Homo sapiens: one gene and its partners. The protein of the gene in region 3 purifies or fractionates together with the protein of the main gene of each other region. This does not show direct contact. Each region holds a gene or a part of one and is shown on either strand. Other genes may lie near its edges.

What was found.
Region 1: the proteins of ESS2 (region 3) and GALC purify together in Homo sapiens (co-immunoprecipitation; 3 studies listed by BioGRID and IntAct, with this or other methods). This does not show direct contact.
Region 2: the proteins of ESS2 (region 3) and PPP3R1 purify together in Homo sapiens (co-immunoprecipitation; 3 studies listed by BioGRID and IntAct, with this or other methods). This does not show direct contact.

What each region holds. Positions count from the first base shown.
Region 1 is NC_000014.9:87,934,183-87,941,186, reverse strand, and holds part of GALC (galactocerebrosidase isoform a precursor), read left to right. Parts: intron 1-1,205; coding exon 1,206-1,282; intron 1,283-6,308; coding exon 6,309-6,455; 3' UTR 6,456-7,004. UniProt on the Homo sapiens protein: Hydrolyzes the galactose ester bonds of glycolipids such as galactosylceramide and galactosylsphingosine.
Region 2 is NC_000002.12:68,242,533-68,249,536, reverse strand, and holds part of PPP3R1 (calcineurin subunit B type 1), read left to right. Parts: intron 1-7,004. UniProt on the Homo sapiens protein: Regulatory subunit of calcineurin, a calcium-dependent, calmodulin stimulated protein phosphatase. Confers calcium sensitivity.
Region 3 is NC_000022.11:19,128,974-19,135,531, reverse strand, and holds the end of ESS2 (splicing factor ESS-2 homolog), read left to right. Parts: intron 1-356; coding exon 357-472; intron 473-1,056; coding exon 1,057-1,336; 3' UTR 1,337-3,055; coding exon of another isoform or gene 3,056-4,132; 3' UTR 4,133-5,253; downstream 5,254-6,558. Other genes in the region: TSSK2 (testis-specific serine/threonine-protein kinase 2), read right to left, coding at 3,056-4,132. UniProt on the Homo sapiens protein: May be involved in pre-mRNA splicing.

The DNA.
Region 1 (7,004 bases), on a different chromosome or scaffold from region 3:
AAATAATTGTACAAAGCTTTTAAGGGTATTGTAGAGTTGAACTGGGCTGTGAGGATAGGATTTGCATAGATAGTATCAAAACCATCTGAGGTAGTGGTGGTAGGGAGAGAATGCTCAGGAGGCACCATAAATAAAAGCAAGAGTATACGACTGTTGCTGCTGTACCTATAGAAATATAAGGAGGGGAATTGATCGGCTTAAAATGGAAAAATCTCATTTTTGAATTTAGTTAATACTTGAAAATAGCTTGACTTTTCTCAGTCATCTTTACAGCCCTTGTGTTAGGTAGGATAATATTTTATCCAGAATAGGTGCTTCAAATATGTTCAGATTGAACTGTGTCCACTTCAGATTGGTTTTGATACACACCACTCCTTTGAAGCTAGACCTTACTGGTAGTGACTTTTCTTGATTCTCAGTCTCTTGACTTTCGTCTTACCTTAATTTAAAAATATCTCTTTTATAGTTTTCTGCTCTTTGCTTTGACTCCATAAATAAAATAAAAATTAAAGAGGAAGTAGGTAGTAAGGATATTAGAACAAGAGTTACATATTCATAGCATTACCAATCTGAACTTACCTCAGTGATACTGAAATCGAAAACATAGAACCAGTGAGGTTAATTGAGTGGCCTAATGACTCAAAGCTAGTTAGTGGCAGAACTGGAACTAGGAATTTAAATCTGTGTCTGCAGTCCCTATTGTCTGTTTTAAACCGCCTACTTGAAATTTTGTCCTGGGTTTCTCATAGGCATTCAAATAACACTAATTCCAAAAATTAACTTACTATTTTCTCCCTCTAAGTTAATACTATTACCATGTGACCAATTAGACTGGCTGGAAATTTTATATTCTGTCTCTCTTGTCTTCCATATTCAATCCAGTCATGTATAAATGTGTACTTGAACTACAGATGCTAACACCTCATACTATCACTGGTTTTTAAGTTTATTTCACTGGTTCTGTTGTGAGCTCACATATAGTATATGGCTCAGAGTAGGATCTCAGTATATGCTATTAAATGCATGGCTAAATGAAAAATGTTTTGGCTTAACTCAGTTGTAGATCTGGGAATGAAGGGACATAGCTCTCTGTTGAGGCTGACTTTACTACATACAGATGCCACTCAAGAACCCCACTGAATTATATGATTCTGTGATTGAGATCTCAAAATTATATCTATTGGGATAATATTTTTGTGTTACAGCTGGATGGATTATATATGCTTTAGGACGTGTTGAAGTTACAGCAAAAAAATGGTATACACTCACGTTAACTATTAAGGTAAGTATTGCTGATTGGAGTCTGGAGGTAAAATGCTCTTTTGTTGTGCATTTCTATAATTTTCTGTTATAAAATAGGAGGGGGAAAGTGTGACATATAATGAAGAGAGACAAAGAATCTGCCTTGGTGCCGGGAAGCCACTCATCCCTAGGATAGTTACATGTGTGAGGGTAACCTATGTGAGAACCATCAGCAGTTGACTTTATCAGGTCACTATTTTTTTAAAAAATTTTATTTTGTTTTTTAAACTGAGGCATAATTGATAGAGTCAATAATTGAACTATTTTTTTCAAGTTTGCTTGAACCAAGACTGTACATGGAGCTTATAGATGTAAGCAAAGCCATATGCATTTATTTTTGATGGTTAAGAATAATTTGGTTTTCAATTATAAGCATAATTTTTAGAAATTGGTTTCCATGAATATTTTAGTCAGAGAAAATACCAGATTAATTTTAGTATAATAGAAATATAAAAATGTTCCTGAGAATCACTGGGTGATCATGAGTTACTGCTCGACAGTGCTTCCAAGGGATGCTGTGCAGATAAATTTTTGTGTATAATGTGTTGGTCTCTCCCAAGATAGCTCTCTCACAATTTTGTTTAGAGTGCAGTAGAAATTAAAAATCAGATTCCAATAACTTTGGAATTTGTTCTCTCAACCACCAAAAATGACAGCACTAATTATTTTTTAGCATTAACAATATGTATATTGAAGATTTGGTTTGGATGTAGCATAGATTATTTAACTATACCACACTAGCCAAATTGTAGCCATTTTATAGCAATTATAATAATATTCACTATTATTGAATTTGAAGATTTTTTCCAAACTCATAGATATGATTTGTATTTCCTTGATAATTAGGGAGCTTGCACATCTAATGTTTACTGGCTATTTGTATTTTCTCTTCTCTGAAGTTGCCTGTTCACTTCTTTCTTCATTTTTCTATCATGTTGTCTTTTTCTGGCAAATTTGTGTGAATTTAATATGTATTCTGGATAGTAACCCATTGTCTGTTACATACGTCACAACTATGCTCTTCCTTCATGTGTATTCTAATTTTGCTTATGGTATTTTTGATGATTATAAGTTTTACATTTTGATACTGTCAAATATTTCACTTTTTATTCATTGCTTTTATGTTTCATGTTTTAAATAAGGCCTTCTTGTTTCTCAAGGTTAGGAACATTTTTCCCCCAAGCTAAACAAAGTTTAGGATTTATTTTTATGTGTAAGTCTTTAATACGTCAGAAATTTACTTGTGAATTGTAAGGGGAAGTACTGAATATAATTTTTTAAAAAATGGATAGCCATCATTTATTACAATGGACTATCCTTTTGCCCATAATTTAAAGGCTACCTTTTTGATGTAACAAATCAGCACATGTGCACATGCTTGTTTCTGAACTTTTTTCTGTTCTCCATATTGATGTTTGTCTATTATTATCCAAAATCACGCTTTTAATTGGTGTTCACATTCTAAAAGCTTTGATGATACAGCTACTCCCTTGCTTCCTTCAGAGTTTTCTTACCTGACCACCTGATAGAAAACAGCGCCCCATCTCACTCTCTAACTCCTTTCTGTTGCTTTATTTTTCTCCAAAAGTTTTATCCCAAGCTGACATCACACATATTCTGTTAATTGTTCATGTGTTTTCCTACTCCCTTCACTAGCACATAGCTCCTTTAGTGACAGGCTTTTCTCCATATTCCTCACTGCTGGCTCTGTAGCACCTAGAAAAGTGCCTGACAGCCAGGCAGAGCAAGAGTCCGAATAATACTTGGTAAATGAATGAATGGATATCTGGTGGGGCAACTTCCTCATTGTTTCTTTTTCAAAATTATCTTTGCTATTCCACTATATATATTATTCGATTTGACTTTTAAAAAACAAACTTTCAGTTACTTGAAAAATGGTGCTGGTATTACATTAAATTTACACATCAATTTAGGAAAAAATGACTTTTTTTTTTTTAACAATAATGTGTTTCCCCATGAGAGAACACAGGAACAAAAGCATGCTATATTTCACCATTTATTAAGATTTGCCACTATGTCCTTCAGTTTTATTTTTGCAAACTTTTGATTAGGTTTGTTTTAGTAATTTTATGAGTTTTTTTGAAATCATGAATGAGATTTTAAAAATTTTCTTAATTTTTTTCAGGTACTTTGCATACCTGGTTAAAATATCAATAGGATGTGAGGCATCTTGCCTCACATCCTGTTCCTTCTTCTTGACCCCATTCTGTGTCTTGTACTTCTGATACAGCCACTCTTCACTATTTTAGCTGTTTCTTCTGGTGTGTCTTTAATACAATGTGATTCATTACTTTTAAAAATTGGCTCTTGTCTTGCTACTAGGATGGATAGGACTTTGCTGGCTTGCACCCACCTCACTCCCCTACTCCTGTTATTTTGTGTTTCATCAACTATGGGCATTCTGTTTCCTCTTGAATCTCAGCTTTTGCCACATACTCTGAGGGTCTTCTGTAACTATCTGCACTAAAGTAGTCTGTCAGGCACCCATTGTCACCTTGACCTGGCTTAATTTTTACATGCTACTTATCTTTTAGCTCTCATTTTGTGTGTGTGTGCATATCTGTCCATCTCCTACTAGAATATAAGCTCCATAAGAGCAGGGACCTTGTCTTTCTTGTTCATCTTAAATTCCCAGTGCATTAAACAGTATTTGACATATAAATCTTCTTTGCGTAAATAAAAAAAACAAAACATCATCTTCTATGTTGCCCATATTCCAAATTACAGCTAATGTGAGGATTTTGTCACTGACTATCAGCCACCTGTTGAATTCTTCTCAGCACTTGTCAGGTGACTTGTCCCAGTTCTGTTGCATGGTGGGTAGCACAATGGACTTTGAAGTCTACTATATTCTACTTGCAAGTATTTTATATTGCACAGCTTCAATTTTCCCATCCATGATATCATGAAGAACACTTTTCTTATGAAGATTCAATGAGAAAATAAATAAATATATATATATATATAGTACCTGATATGTGGTAAGCACTTAATGAGTCAAGTTAATATTTTTAGGAGTAGGAGTGTTTGGAACCAGACAGACCAGCATTCGTATTTCCTCACTAACACATGCTGAGACTTCTAGCAAGTTATTCCACCTCTTTGAGTATCCATTTCCTTATCTGCAAAATGGAGATAACTTCTGTGAGGTTGTTTTGAGGGTTAAATGTGTTTCATTCTTATATTCAACACATTTTTATTAAGCCCCTACTGTATGCACTTTACTAAGTCCTAGGGATACAGCAGCGAACGAAACAGACAAGATTCCTGCTCTCTTAGAGCATATATTCTTCTAGGACAGGGGTTGGCAACTTTTTCTGTAAAGGGCCAGATAGTAAATATTTTAGACTTCGTGGGCCATGTGGTCTCTGCTGTGGCTACCCAGTTCGGCTATTGTAATGAGTAAAAAAGCCATAGACAATAGACAATAATGAGAAAAAAAGCCATAGACAATGGATGTGGCTGTGTTTCAGTAAGATTTTATTTATTAAAAAAAGGGCGGTTGGCATGTAGGTCATAGTTTGCTGAGCCCTATCCTGAGATAATAAACTTGTAAATAAGTTTATAAATGATTATGAAGAAAAAATAGAGTCATGAGATAAAGTAGCTCTGTTACCCTGATTCTCTAACCAGGGAGGTGAGGAAAGACCTCACTGAGTGGGTAGTACTTGAGTGCAGACCTGAATGCTGGGAAGAACAATTTGAGCAGACCAAGTGGCAGGTGCAAAAGGCAGGTGTAGCTGACATTGTGTGAAGAGCAGCCTGGAGGCTGGGGTGGCTGAAGTCTGGGGAGTCAGGAGAGATAAGGTCCTGTTAGACAGGTTTTGTGCTTAATGTGATCTGTGATTTGAGTCCCTTGGCTCGGTGTTAATATTGAGTGTTTGATGGCAGCAGAAGATGTTCAGTAAGCACTTCTAGAGCTGAAGATAGCTGTGCAAGTCTGTAGTAATAGGAATGTGGCTCTGAATTTGGAGCTAGGTAACTTGGAGTGAAAACCTGTGACTTTGAGCTTTAATCTATTAAGCCTCAGTGTTTCCACGCATAAAATAAAAGAACTAAATTAAGGCCCATTACGTTATACTTCCAAGACTTAAAAGCAGATTTATTCTGGTTCTTGGCCCAGTGCTTTGAGTTTTGAGCTCTTCACCTTCTGAGAGTAGCTAGTTTTATATGATTGACTGTAGTTAGTATGCTGTGAATATGTGCTCATAAATGTACTATCATAAAGATAATAAGAGCTGAGATTTATTGTTTACCATGTGCCAGGCACTGAGCTAAGTAGAATGGCAACATTCGGAGGAAGGTGTAATTTTTTCTTTCACTGTCAGTGACCAGTAAGTCACACCTTATAGATGCCTCCCTTCTTCCACCCGCTGCACCCTACTCCAGCATCACTTTAACTGATGGTTACTGTTTTTCCAACTTAAGGGTAGGAGCTTCATATGGCTTTGAAGTGATATTCTATTCATGGCAACAAAACACAAAAACTAAGGTTAATTATTTTTCTTCTGGCTGGGCAGAGGCTCCTTAATGAAAACCTTAAGGAAGCAATGAGGTAGAAGCAGATGTTTTGACTCCAGCAGTCATGTCTGAAGAGCTGGTGGCTGTTAGCCACACCACTTGTACATGTGACTACTTATAAATAACTTTTGTTAAATTTTAATGAGCTTTTTTCTAAAACTTTATAATAATGCCTGAAAAGTTTTGCATTTTGTTGGTTTTAAATTTTGGTGGAGCACAGGAAATATTGAGGTATTCCTTGTACTTTGGGAACGATTTAAGTAGGTAGATAAGAATTTCTTCCTAGAGTTTTTTCCTGTATTTTAAACTTTTGCTCAAACTTGTGGAATTGTGTTTTGCTGTGGTTAAGTCTTGAGTGAGTAGTACATTTGCTCCACTAAGTAGTGGGCCATACATGATCAAGAAACAGACTTCAGAGGACCATTTTCATATGGTTTCAAGGAATGTGTTTCTTTCTACTCTAGGGTCATTTCACCTCTGGCATGCTGAATGACAAGTCTCTGTGGACAGACATCCCTGTGAATTTTCCAAAGAATGGCTGGGCTGCAATTGGAACTCACTCCTTTGAATTTGCACAGTTTGACAACTTTCTTGTGGAAGCCACACGCTAATACTTAACAGGGCATCATAGAATACTCTGGATTTTCTTCCCTTCTTTTTGGTTTTGGTTCAGAGCCAATTCTTGTTTCATTGGAACAGTATATGAGGCTTTTGAGACTAAAAATAATGAAGAGTAAAAGGGGAGAGAAATTTATTTTTAATTTACCCTGTGGAAGATTTTATTAGAATTAATTCCAAGGGGAAAACTGGTGAATCTTTAACATTACCTGGTGTGTTCCCTAACATTCAAACTGTGCATTGGCCATACCCTTAGGAGTGGTTTGAGTAGTACAGACCTCGAAGCCTTGCTGCTAACACTGAGGTAGCTCTCTTCATCTTATTTGCAAGCGGTCCTGTAGATGGCAGTAACTTGATCATCACTGAGATGTATTTATGCATGCTGACCGTGTGTCCAAGTGAGCCAGTGTCTTCATCACAAGATGATGCTGCCATAATAGAAAGCTGAAGAACACTAGAAGTAGCTTTTTGAAAACCACTTCAACCTGTTATGCTTTATGCTCTAAAAAGTATTTTTTTATTTTCCTTTTTAAGATGATACT
Region 2 (7,004 bases), on a different chromosome or scaffold from region 3:
AAATGAACATAATATAAAGGTAATTGTTTTACGTTTTGTTTCTTAAGGGAACTTTAAATTTTATAAAGGCCTTTTCATGTCTTTGTGCTTTTAAACTTTTAAATTTTTTTTTATCTCCATGATCTGCATCTAGAACTTAAAACAAATTTATTGCCGTCTATAACTGTATGTAGAGTTTTACACAACATATTCTAGTTCAGATTCTGTGGCAAAGGCCACTTTTTAGAAAAAAAAAAACCTGTCTTATGACCAGCGGAATTAAAATTCACATCTGTCCTGAGAAAATTTATCCACTCATTTTGTCCCATAGTGAATGAGAAAATTAAAATGGTTCAAGGTATAAAGTAAAGAAGCTGACTAAGGGTCAGTCAGCAATGAGAGGGACAGACAAGTATGGAAGGATCAGGCAACTGTTATAGGTAGTAAGGCAGTATAAGGAAGTCACCTTGGGCCAGGAGGATATTAAGTCAGACAGTGGGCCTGGAGTCTGGGGCAAGCAACAGGGATTCATTCCTATCAACAAATACTTGTAGATTTTGTCTGCCGTTTACTGGTTGTTGTGCTCTCTGTTGTGGAGGATATTGCAATGATTAAGGCAGGTTTCCTACCTTCATTTAAGTAGAGAATGTAAGACAAATGGCAGTAACCGTGAAGTAAGTTAGCATGTGATGAGTGTCATATGAATAGTACACACAAAGCATGATAGAAATTTAAGAAGGAGCAAGATCATTTTCACCTGGGATTAGGAAAAGTTTTATGAAGGAGGTGGTAATTGAGCTAGCTGGGTCTAAAAAGATCAGCGTTGCAGTAGGCAGAGTTGGAGGCATCTAGAAGAAGGCACTTTAAATCCTAAAGGGAGGAAGAGACAATGTACATTTGGAGCACTGATGGTTCCCGAACCAACAGCAACAGCATCATCTGGAAACTTGTCAGGCCCCACCCTGGAACAACTGAATCCAAAATTCTGGAGATGAGCCAAGCAGTCTTAAGTTTTATAGGTCTTCCAGGTAATTGTGATATAGGCTGAACTTTGAGAACCACTGTTTAGAGAATAGGAAGGAATGTGTAAAGTTGAGTCAAGCGTCTCTTAATGTACCTAGCACTAACTATATGTACTTAAGACATAATTGTTATCTACAAGGAAATTAATCAAGTAGGGTAAATAAGACAGTGATTATGCAGTGTGCTATGTGCTATTAACAGACTAAACATGGGATGCTGTAAGAGCACATGGCAGGGAAGAGGCTTAATCCACACTGGGGATGAATGTCACTTAAAGTTTCCTGGAAGAAATGGTGTCTGAACTGAGTCTTGAAAGGATGAGTATTTAGCCAGTGAGGAAGGGCACACCACATAGAGAGCTTCTGTTCGAAGTCATGGAAGCATGAGATATACAAGCCATCCAGAGAACTACAGTGTTAGTTTAGCGTGGCTGGAGAGGAAGGGGGTAGTGTCTGGTGGATTGACACTAGATCATAGAGGGATTTGCATATCATGAAGGAGTTAATCTTTTTTCTCCTAAAAGCAGTGGGAAGTTATTTTCAAGCAGGAGAATGACATTGTCTCATTTACTTTTTTAAAGAGACCATTCTGATGGCCGGGTGGATAATAGGATAGATGAATCTAGACATGAGGATTCAGAAATAATTATAGTAATTTATATGAGACAGAAGGATGTGAAAGAATACAGTAACAATGCAGATAGATAGTAGGGATCCTACAGGAGATACATTTAGGCGGTAGAAGAAAGAACTTGGTAACTATTGGATTATGGGGAAGAAAAGAGGTGGTGAATTCTGCTTTGGTTTCTGGCTTTGGATAATGCTATCCACCCAGCAAATATTTGTTGAGCACCTACTTGGTTAAGGTTAGGTTTTAGGAATACATGGGGAATACTGTTCCTGTCCTCGAGAAACTTCCAGTTTGCTGGGATGACTATTGTTTCATCTCTAGGCTTCTATTATTTGGTAATTAGTGCTTGGGATGCTATGTTGCAAGACTCCAATTTCAATAGGATAGAGTGCTGTGAAATATTAACAGTGCCTGCTACATACATGTCATGGCCTAGGAGAAACAGAAAGAACTTGATAGCCTGGAGGTAGAAAGAGGCACATGTGTTTGAACAGTGATTCTCAAGAAGTGGATCCTGGACTAGCAGCATCAGTATCATTTGGGACCTTGTTAGAAATGCACATTCTCCTAGGAGATGTAGGAGAAGAAGGTTTTGGGGGAGTGATGAGAATTTTTATTTTTGCACATGCTGAATTTAAAGGAATCATGGGTGGGCTAGGCACAGTGGCTCATCCCTACAATCCAAGCACTTTGGGAGGCCGAGGCAGATGGATCTTGGGCTCAAGAGTTCCAGACCAGCCTGGGCAACATGGTGAAAGCCCATCTGTACAAAAATACAAAAATTAGGCGGGCACAGTGGCACACGCCTGTAGTGCCAGCTACTCAGGAGGCAGAGGTGGGAGGATGGCTTGAGCTTGGGAGGTGGAGGTTGTGGTGAGCCAAGATTGTGTGACTGCACTCCAGCCTGGGTGACAGAGCAAGACTGTTTTGGGGGGCGGGAGGTGGGCAGGGAATAGTAATCTTGGGTTATCTAGGTGATTATGGCCAACAGGTAATTGGCTACCTATATCTGGAGCTCATAAGAGACATCTGGGGCTTGCATTAAAGATTTGAGCATTGTCTGTGCATTTATATTAGGTAGTAGTTGAAGCCGTGAAACTGGATGAAATCCTGTGTAGAGAGAATATAAAATGAGACGTGAAGAGAGTGAACTCTAAAGATGGTGCATGTAAAAAGGCAGGTAGAGGATGAGGAGCCTGTGAAGTTTGTCATTGAATAGCCAGAGAGATAGTTGGGAAATGAGCAGCATAGCATGATGCCAGATTGAAGGGAGTCTTAAAGAGGAAGGAGTCAGCAGTGAATAGATACTGCAGAGATCAAGAAAGAGAACTTAAAGATGTCTTTTGGAGATAACAGGAGAGTTTTGATGACTTGGTCAATAGTAGTTTGTTGTAATGGTGGCAAGGGAAGCCAGGAGGTAGTGAGACATTGAATTTAGATTGCTTTTTAAAGCTTTGAGTAGCAGAGAGGGTGAAAGCTAGAGAATTTAGTTTTGAGGAAGGATTTATCTTGGGGTTGAAAGAAAAAGTCAGAGCCGGGCACGGTGGCTCACTCCTGTAATCCCAGCACTTTGGGAGGCTGAGGCGGGCGGATCATGAGGTCGGGAGTTAGAGACCAGCCCGACCAATATGGTGAAACCCTGTCTCTACTAAAAATACAAAAATTAGCCGGGTTTGGTGACGCGTGCCTGTAATGCCAGCTACTTAGGAGGCTGAGGCAGGAGAATCACTTGAACCCGGGAGGCGGAGGTTGCAGGGAGCTGAGATTGTACCAGTGCACTCCAGCTTGGACGACAGAGCAAGACTCTGTCTCAAAAAAAAAAAAAAAAAAAAAAAAAGAAAGAAAGAAAAAGTCAGTAAAAAGGGTAAAAAGGGAGAGATTATCTTTTGAATCTTTTCAAAGAGAAAAGACAGGATTATTGACAACTTAATGTCTCCAAGGAGGTAGAAGGGAGTTTATGACTCTCCTTAGACAAGAAGGGGAATTTTTCTCATCCTTTTAACATGAAAGAGAAGGAGAAAAAGATGAAAACTATTATGTAGGTCATATAAGAGTTTAGGCTGGAAAGGAAGTCATGTGTTAAGTTGTAAATGGTTTAACTGTTTTGAGTTCAGTTTGGTCCCATTGGGGAACCATTGATTAATCTGGAAATAAGATGCTGGGTGACTTGGAAAGGGTGGAAACTAGATGAGGTGAGTTCCACAAAGGAATACTGCTTTATAGTATTACAAGTATGAAGTTATAAGGATTTGAAAGCAAATAAAAATGGAGGCATTTTAAATATAGAGTTGAAAAGAGTTAGAAACTGATGATGAGGAAACAGTCATGAAGGATGACCCAACCTAGTGATTAGATATAAAGATAGCACATTACAAATAAAACCAGGAAAGTAAGAGTGAGTTGCTGGTGAAAAGTAGTGTTAGAAGAAGGTGAGCTTGGTTTTAGATAGTTAATTTGATAGGCTTGAGACATTATACTGTAATTATTTAACAAATGTGATAATGTACTTGGAAAATAAACTGAATAATTTTTTTTTCTTTTTGGAGACAGGATCTTGCTATTTTGCCCAGGTTGGAGTGCGGTGGTGCGATCTCAGCTTATTGCAGCCTCCACCTCCCAGGCTCAAGCCATCCTCCCTCCTCAGCCTCCCAAGTAGCTGAGACTACAGGTGCACACCACTACACCCAGCTAATTTTTGTGGAGACAGGGTCTTGCCATGTTGCGCAGGCTGGTCTCAAACTCCTGAGCTCAAGCAGTCTGCCCACCTTAGCCTCCCAGAGTGCTGGGATTACAGTCGTGAACCACCAGGCCTGGCCTAGAAGTAGAATATTTGAGTCAGGGTAATAGCTGATTGGATAGTTGTAAAGATGAAGATTAAGAAAATACTGATGGAATGGTCATTAGAAGAATATTGATAATTTTTAAGACTAACTTCAGTCATGTCCTAGGTGACAAACATAAGATTGCAGGGGAAAGTAAACTCTGTGAATGCAGAAGCCTTGTCTTTGTCTTTTCGTTCTTATATTCCAGATACTTGGTATATGGTAGATGTTAAGTACTATTTGAAGGAGTATGTGAAGTGGAATAAAGGAAAAGGTGCTTATCGGACATTGAAGGCAGTGAGTGTCAGTTTCTTTTTTTTTTGAGACATTTATGAAAGAAAGACAAAGGATAATTAACTTCAGTGGTTTACAGTTGGAGTAAGTTCTTTTTTGGTAAGAGAAAGATGGGGATATTCTTGAGAATTAGAAAAGCCAGGAGAGGGAGCTGTAAGAGCGTGATTAATGGAATGAGCTCTAGAAAAGTTAAAAAGAAGAGGATAAAAGGAAAGGATAGACATTAAAAGAGAGAGAAAAAATCAGAGTGAAGAGAAATAGGCCATGGCAACAGATATGTTTTAATAATGGAGTTCATAGCAGGTGGCCTAAATCATCTTAGTATCTCAGGATAATTTGAGGCAAGTTAATTTGCTGAGGTTGACATTGAGCCTGAGGGAACTGGGGTGGTTTTGAGGGGTGAGGGCTGTGGAAGAGGATTGTGTTATCCAGTTTGGGGAATTGTTAGGCAGTTAACAAGGTAATAAATAAATATAACTAAATGGTAGCTAGGACCTAGGAGAAGGCAGCAGTTGGTCAGTGACCTAGGAAATAAATCTAGAAAACAGGGGTTTTAACCAGAAAAGAGCTTAATACTTTGGCAGTCTTTGCTTTATTAACTCAGATTTGTTCTTCTGATCAATTTACATAGGTCTAAAAGGAATCATTTTTTGAGTTCAGCTTTTAAGGAAGGGGAAACATGTTTTAGATCCGTATGTTAATTTTTTTTCCCTAAAGTTCTAAAGACACTACATTAATGTAGTCACTTAAAAATTCAAATGATATTGAAAGATCTAAAATGGAAAGTAAGTCTTCCCTGGCCACCCCTCCCCCAGTATTAAGTTTCTTGTTTATATATTCTTCGAAGAGTTTTTTGTGTGGGGTTTTTTTCCTTCCTTTTTTTTCCCGCCTGTGGCAACATATGGATTTTATTATAATTTAGTTCTTATTAAAAAGATTGATCGTAAAAGTTTTAATGATACGCTACTTATTACAAACTATAAGTAAACTCATAGTTTACTCATTACAATCAGTTTTAGTCCAAAGTTTTAATGGTATTTTAAATGTAAACAATGAGTCAGAAATAATTGATAAATCTAATTAGGTAACAATTTTATAGTGATAGAGGTTGTTACTTTAACGAGGGTCTGAACTATGACCATGTTCTTAAGAAATTACTCTGGGGAAAATAACATTTTACTAGAACTTTTTTTTGTACTTATTTCTACCTAATATCTTATTAAACATAACATGGATAACAAATTATTAAAAGAGAAAATAGCTTCTGAAGTATAATGGATAAAGCGTCTTTTTTAACTCAAGCTTGATTGTTTAAAATTTATTCCTCATTTTTACCCTTCCAAGTAAGCCTTTTCTCCAGTAGCCCTCATCTTTTCTTCCCTTTCTGAATTTTCTCCATAGACTCCATAATAAAGGAAACTTATGGTCAACATCTCCTCAGTGTTTGTGAATTGACAGTATAATTCTGACTAATTTATAGGTCTGGCGCAGGAATAACATTTTGATAAATGTATTCCTGGGTTTGTCTTTGGATTTTATAGTCTTGTACTATGAAATATTTAAAATGTTTGAAGATTTCTGTAGGAAATCTTTTGAAATTTAGCACTAATAATTTAAACAATTCATAGATTCCTATACTGTTCTTCCTCATAGAGTTTTGTTTTGTTTTTTAAATATTTCTTGTAAGTAGTAAAAAGAGGGCCAAATTGGTAGCCCTGTTGGTATCCCAAAAAAACATTCCTGTAGATGAGATGTTACATTGACTTGTTTTTCTGGTGTTGGTAAAATCACTGGTGCGTTGACCAGCTCTTTTTCTAAAGAACACAGAGTATTCATTTTTATTTTTATGTTAGAATTAGGTATGCATTTTAAAACCTAGTTACAATAGAATGAAGCATAGCAGCCTACAGAAAGGATGTTACCCTTGGCCCTTACTAGCGCTATCCATTAGTATTTTATTTTTAATCTGTCTAGATTCAGGGATGATTTTCTTTCATATCCTCCTGAGTGTAATGCCATAAGCAAGCCCCTATTTTAGGCATGCAGTATGCTGGCATTGTCTAGTATTTCTTGTAAGGCAATCTTTAATAAAAATTGGAATCTCAGGAAAAACACGTGATAATGGGCAATAAGATAAATCTGTACTTACATATTTGTTCATGGTGCACCTGTGTTCCCTAACAAATAGAATTTCATGAATTATAAACTAACTTATACTCTTTCTCAAGTAAAGAGTGAACTTATAATCAGAGGAAT
Region 3 (6,558 bases):
GAGAGCAAAATAGGCCACAGGCACACGGGGAAGCGCCCGAAATACAGAGCGCCGATAAAGACAGAGATGTTCACTCTGATAATCAGGGAAACACTAAAACAGACTGCTTTTTCCTGAGAGATTGTCAGAGGTCATGGTTTTGGGAGGAACACGAAGACAGGTGAGGAGTGCTGCGCCTTGGGCAGGTCAGGTGGGGTTTGGGGCTTTCCAGGGGCTTTTAGTGGGAGGTGATGGGTTGTGGGGGTTTTGTAGGCAACAAAGAGAGGCTGGCACCCACCACAGTGGCTTTCTGTGTGAGGGGCTGCCTGGCGTGTGGCAGGCCTGGCGCAGCTACCCACACACCTGCTACCTTGTAGATCCTGGAGCCAGGCCGCAGGGAGCGGCTGGGTCTGAAGATGGCCAACGAGGCCGCTGCCAAGAACCGGGCCAAGAAGCAGGAAGCCTTGCGGAGAGTGACGGAGAATCTGGCCAGGTGAGGGGCCGCCTGGCTGGTGGGGAAGTGCGAGGGTGGCTCTGGCCTGCTCCTGTTCGGCCCCTGCCCTGACCGTGTGGAGGCATGGCCCACGCGGCAGAGTCCAGGGCAGGTCCGCGGGGTTCTGCAGTGGGTACTGTGGCAGCTCCTCTATCCAGAGCATGGCCGCACATGGACAGGATGAGAGGCCCCCTCCATCTTCTCTTTCCTCCACGTCCTCTTTGACCCGTCCCTAAGAGGCATCTTTAGGCGTGTGGTCCTGCTGGGAGCTTTCATCAGCCCTGTGGAGAGAGTCATCGTTCCCCTTGGAGAGGGGTGGGGACTCCAACTCTCAGAGGCCTGGGGGTGCACCCCAGCCCCCACAGCCAAGGGCGGTGCTGCTGTTTGACCTCAGGTTTGACCTGAGCGCTGCTGTTTGACCTCAGGGATCCCCCGCATTTGCTGCCATGCTGGCAGTACCATCCTCCTCAGCTCAGAGTGACTGTGTCTCTGCCCAGGCTCTTCCTGGGAGCCAAGGGAGGCCCTGCTGCCGGCAGCTCTCAGCCCACCTAACCCTGCCTCTCTCACCCATTCCTCCACCCCAGCCTCACCCCCAAAGGCCTGAGCCCAGCCATGTCGCCAGCCCTACAGCGCCTTGTGAGCAGGACGGCCAGCAAGTACACAGACCGGGCCCTGCGGGCCAGCTACACACCATCCCCAGCACGCTCCACCCACCTCAAGACCCCGGCCAGTGGGCTGCAGACCCCCACAAGCACACCGGCGCCTGGCTCTGCCACACGCACCCCTCTCACACAGGACCCGGCCTCCATCACGGACAACCTGCTGCAGCTCCCTGCCCGGCGCAAAGCTTCGGACTTCTTTTAGAGCCAGGCCTGGGCTGGGCTCATAGACGCTTCACAGAGCCTGCAGGGCAGCTGTACACCCAGCAGAGGACTCCAGCCTTCTCGGGGCCCAGGCCTGGGCCAGAAGCTGTTGACCATACCAGGAGTCACTGGAGAAAGGGGCTGTGCTGGGGCCAGACTGGCACAAGGCACTCGTGCCCACACCACACCCCAGGGCCTTGCCAAGCTGTTTGCTGTTTAATTGGCCCCTTGAACTGTCATTAAAGAACACCTAGGTACAGTCTGGGGGGTTGCCTCTCCATCTTGCTCCCCACACGAGCCCTAGCCTTGCCCTGGGGCCTGCATCACGTCTCAGGACTGCGGGGCTTGAAGCGAGGGGCCCCCCAGGTGAGGAAGCTGCAGGTGGGGCGGCTGTGGGAGCACCGGGTGACTGGCGTTGCTTTCTGCGGCACTCGGAACCTGTGTTCTGAGTTGAGCTCACATCCTGCAGTGCTTTCTGCTTCTCTGGGGGGATATGAAGGAGAAACGGAGCCCTTGGAAGTTGTACCCTTAGGTTCCCCTGCGGTTCTGGGCCCAGGTCTGCAGCCTCCACTCTGGGCTTGCCGGCTGTGAGGTGCGCTGGTTATAGGACTGTGTGGGGGCTGCATATCAGGTGATCTCAGCTATCACCTTCTCCCAGCACCTGGCTTCCAGCTCATGGGGTGGGACTATCCCACTCACCCCTCTGCTATAGGCACTGCCCATCTTATGCTGCTGGCCCTGGCCTCACCTGGTCACTTCCACCAACAGGAGCTCCCAGATAACAGTGGGTTGCTGGACAGATCAGGCTGGGACTCTTAAGGGGTGGGGGACGTGGGGCCTTCAGTGCTTTATCCCCTAGGAAAGGGTGCACGTTATCCCAAGGGAGCCCCCAGGAAGTGGGGAGGGAGGGGGGAGGAGCATGTCTAGGTGCTGACCACCTGGAGCACTTGGCCAGCAAGTGGGCCGCATGCTTTGGGAGCAATGGGTGACCCAGCAGGAAGCACAAAAGACCGGCCAGTGTGCCATCATCAAGGGCTGCTGAGCAGCTTGAAGAGCCACTGGGTGGGGAGGGCACACGGGGAGGTCTCAGCTGGGGCTGCCCCTGGAGGACAGGGCAGGGAACTTGAGGGCTGAGGACAGAAATCTCACATGACTCCAGGAAATAGAGGAAGAGGAGGATGCTGAGCGAGGGATTGTGAGGGAGTGGGGGTAGGTCAGAGGGGGCTGAACTGCAGGAAGCCAGGGGGAGTCGTGGACCACTGGAGCTGGCCAGCCCCAGGGCATTGGGGACAAGGCCAGGTCAGAGGGAGACAGTGTGGGCCTGGTGGGTGGACCCTGGCAGAGGCCCTCTTGTCCCCCACAAGGCCAGGCCACACTGTGATTCTGCCTGTACCTGAGCATCTGTCCTGTGCTCCTAGGCCGGAGACCACTGTGTGTCAGGTGGGGCGGTTGGCTGAGTCCCAGAGAAAAACACTCCTCACTGGGCACTCTTGATGCTTGCACACACCCTGTGGTTTATTTGGTGGTCAGTAAGGAACGTCTTTGCTGCTAAGTGGAAGAAAGCTAATGGAACGTAATCAAAATAGTGGTTTAATTGACGAATTTTACTTGCACCTGTGCCTTCTTCAGATCCTACCTGCCTACTTAGTTTACGTGAAGGCCGACTGCACCATGCCCCCCAACCCCGACCCCCACCACACACAACGGGGCCATTGTCATGCTAGGTGCTTGCTTTCCCCACCTCAGCTCCGGAGATGTGATGGTCTTTGGCCCTGGAGGTCTCGGCCAGCCTGTCCTCCATCCTGTTCTCGTTCTCGGGCACCACCAGCAGCCGGTGCTGGGTTTTGGCTCCAAGCTTGTGGTCGGGCCGGTGGTCGGGCCTCAAGCCTGTCTTGGTGTCCAGTTTGCACTCAGCGCGGTACTTGCCCTCCCCCTCCCTCTTGAAGGAGGCAGAAGACGTGGCTTTGGGCTTGGGGGGCTGCAGCCACGAGTGGCTGAGGATCTCATCGATGTGGAGCCGCTGGCTGACGTCGGGCTGCAGCATGCGGTAGATGAGGTCCTTGCACTCGCAGGTCAGGTTCTTGGAGCGCGGGAAGTCCACACGGTGCTCCTTCTGGATACGCAGCATCTTCCTGATGTCGGAGTCGTCATAGGGCATGGAGCCGCAGACCATGATGTACAGGATCACGCCCAGGCTCCAGATGTCATACACCTTGGGCTGGTAGGGGATGCTCTGCAGCACCTCGGGGGCTGCATATGCTGCCGACCCGCAGAAGGTCTTGCTGAGGATGATGCGCCCATTGCTGTCCCGCAGGCAGCGCTTGGAGAAGCCAAAGTCAGACAGCTTGATGTTGAAGTCCTTGTCGAGGAGAAGGTTCTCGCACTTGAGGTCCCGGTGGACGATGTCCAGGTCGTGGCAGTACTTGACGGCGGAGGAGAGCTGTCGGAACATCTTGCGTGCCACGTCCTCATGCAGGGCTCCCTGGCACTTGATGAACTCGAGGAGGTCGCCCTGGACGCCAAGCTCCATGATGATGTAGATCCGTCCGTCAGAGGTCTCAAAGATCTCGTAAGTCTTGATGATGGAGCCGTGGTTGACAGTTGCCAGGATGTCCATCTCCCGAGGAAGGAATCTCTCCACAAAGTCAGTAGGTGTTTTCTTGCGGTCGATGATCTTGACAGCCACATTGAACTTGAGGCGCTCAGAGTAGGCAGATTTGACTTTTGCGTAGGAACCCTTGCCAAGATTGATGCCTACGATGTAACCCTTCTTCCTTAGGACTGTGGCATCGTCCATGGTGCCAGGAGCGACTGGCGCCGCTGCCGTCTACATCCCCCCGTCATGTGGGCCAGCAGGCATTGTCCTCATTTACACTACCGGAGGCGTCTGGCTGGGCTGCCCTGGGCTGGGCTTCGACTCAGGGGTGGAACACTCAGCATTGTCTCCGGGTGACTTCAGCCAATGAACTCATAAAGCCAAGGAGTGGGGGCGGGGACTGGGCTGAGGGAGAACAGGGTCTCTGGAACCGTGGAAGCCAGGCTGGTCTGGCAGGAGCACCCACTCCCCGCCCGCTGGAAGGAAGCCTGTCCCCAGGACAGGACTCTGGTGGCCCTGCTGCTGCTGCATTGGTTTCCCTGTCACAAGTCAAGCTGGAGGGGAGGCGGCCCACGTCCAGCCTGTTTGCATCACCTGGCTGTGGGGACTGACCCTGCATTGGTCTTTGTCCCACTAGGGTGGGTTTCCTGCAGCTTCTTTGGCTATGAAGAAAAGCACCCCCAGGGCTGTGTCCTTGGTGTGGTAGGACAGTTGTCCCTGACAGTCACCCAGACAGGCCTGCATAGCACCCCAGTTACACAGACAGATTTCCACAGCACTGCCTTACCATTGAGCACATAGTTAAATCTAGGGAAATCAGTGCCCAGACATCAAAGCTAGAAATGAAACATGGTCAGCAGGAGCCTTGCATGGGCTTCTCTTTTGCTGGAGCAAGCCAAAATAATAGGAACGGTTTTACATTCCTAGTGCCAGGACCCATCTCGGGTCGACAAAATCTGAAGACAAGTTAAGGGAACAGGCAGCTGTTTGAATAGATCAATTGGATAGTCTAAGGCAGCTCTCTGGACCAAGCTGTAAAGGAGATACAATCGAAATAATCACTCCGGTACCACAGTAGACAGGCCTTGAAGGCACTGGGCCCCTTTTAATCGGACTTAGCAAGCATTTTTTTTGCCTCTGACCTTCTCCTTGGAACAAAATTAGTTACCAGTAGACTTAGGTGATTGCTGTACTGCATGTAGGCACATAACCCCAACCTATATAAACAGTAAGAAAATTGTAGCACTTTGAGTTGGTCTGCTGGAATTATCTCCAGCCTTCTCCCTGTATCCAGTTACAGTGATAAACTCCCTTCTTTCCTAGTTTGTCTGCTTCTCGTTATTGGGCCTCAAGAAAATGCAGCTGGACCTGGCTTGGTTCTGGGAACAGTGGTACCTGGGAGGGACTGCCCTGGACCAGTCAGGCTGGCAGTGGTGCCAAGCCTGGTAGACGAAAGCAGCTCTGTGTTTGGGAGCAGAGGCGGCAGGCCCCTCAGGGTAGAGAGCCGGGCAGGTGAGTCGCTGCTGCTCCAGCGAGCAAGGGCCTGTGTATGGGTGGGTCGGGGCTGCAGTGCATGCCAGCTGGGTGCCCAGGGTCCAGGGCAGGTGGCTGCATGTCTGAGGGGTGGGGCAGGGCCTCCCTTGGGTAGAGGCGGCAGGAAGGCACCCAGGCAGCAGAGAGCCTGGGAGAAGAGAGGGCTTTTTCTGAAAGTGACTGGAAGTAGGAGGGAAGTGAAGGAGTCTCGGCTTTTTCTCTAAGCGGCAGCCTGCCCCTGCAGGTGCAAGACAGGAGGAGGGCCGTCCCAGTTGTGTTTTAAGATGGTCAGTGGCAGAGAGAGAGAGACAGAAAGAGTAGAATTGGCTTTGAGGTGAGAGTGGGGGCCAGTGCCTTTGACCAAATGAGAAGAGGCTGGGCCAGGGTGGGCCTCAGGATCAGCAGGAGACAGAGAAGGTCAGGTCTTAGTCTTGTTTGCTAGACTGTGAGTGGATGGGCCTTGGTGCTGGGGAATCCTGGGGCTGAGAGCGCCCAGGCCATGCACTGCAAAGACCAGGCACCTGGGTGAGGAGGGGGTTCTGAATCACATCAGTTTGGGCCTTTGTGTGGAGTGAGCAGCAGTCGCCTGTTGGAACCCTGACATTGGGTAGCATTTACGTCTCGGGCTGCCTTTTGCACCTGCAGTGTGAACATCCTGTTTCAGTGCTGGTGTGTGGATTTGTGCTTTGGGAAATGTGGCATCCTGTACATGTCTCCTCAGGTGCGTTGGACTGATGTTCATTTGTCATCCATCACAGGCATCCTGGATTCACAGGGAGCAGCTGGGACAGATGAGCTGTGTGTTCAGTGTTTAGGGGAGAGGGAGGAAGGCCTGTTCCCAGGTGGGGTTTAGTCCTGGAAGGTTTCAAAGAGGAAGTGATGTTGGAGCTGGGGTGCTGGGGATCAGCAGACTCCACAGGGTTGACAAGAGGGGCAGGACATGTCAGACAGATGTGACATCTTGGCCCTGGCATGGCTGTGTGGACCCACTCCATCTGGAGTACACAGGGAGCACCCTGTGTTTGGAGGTCACTAGGGAGGATTGCAGAAACAGGGCAGCCAAAGTCAGGATGCTAAGCTGAGAGGCTCAGATG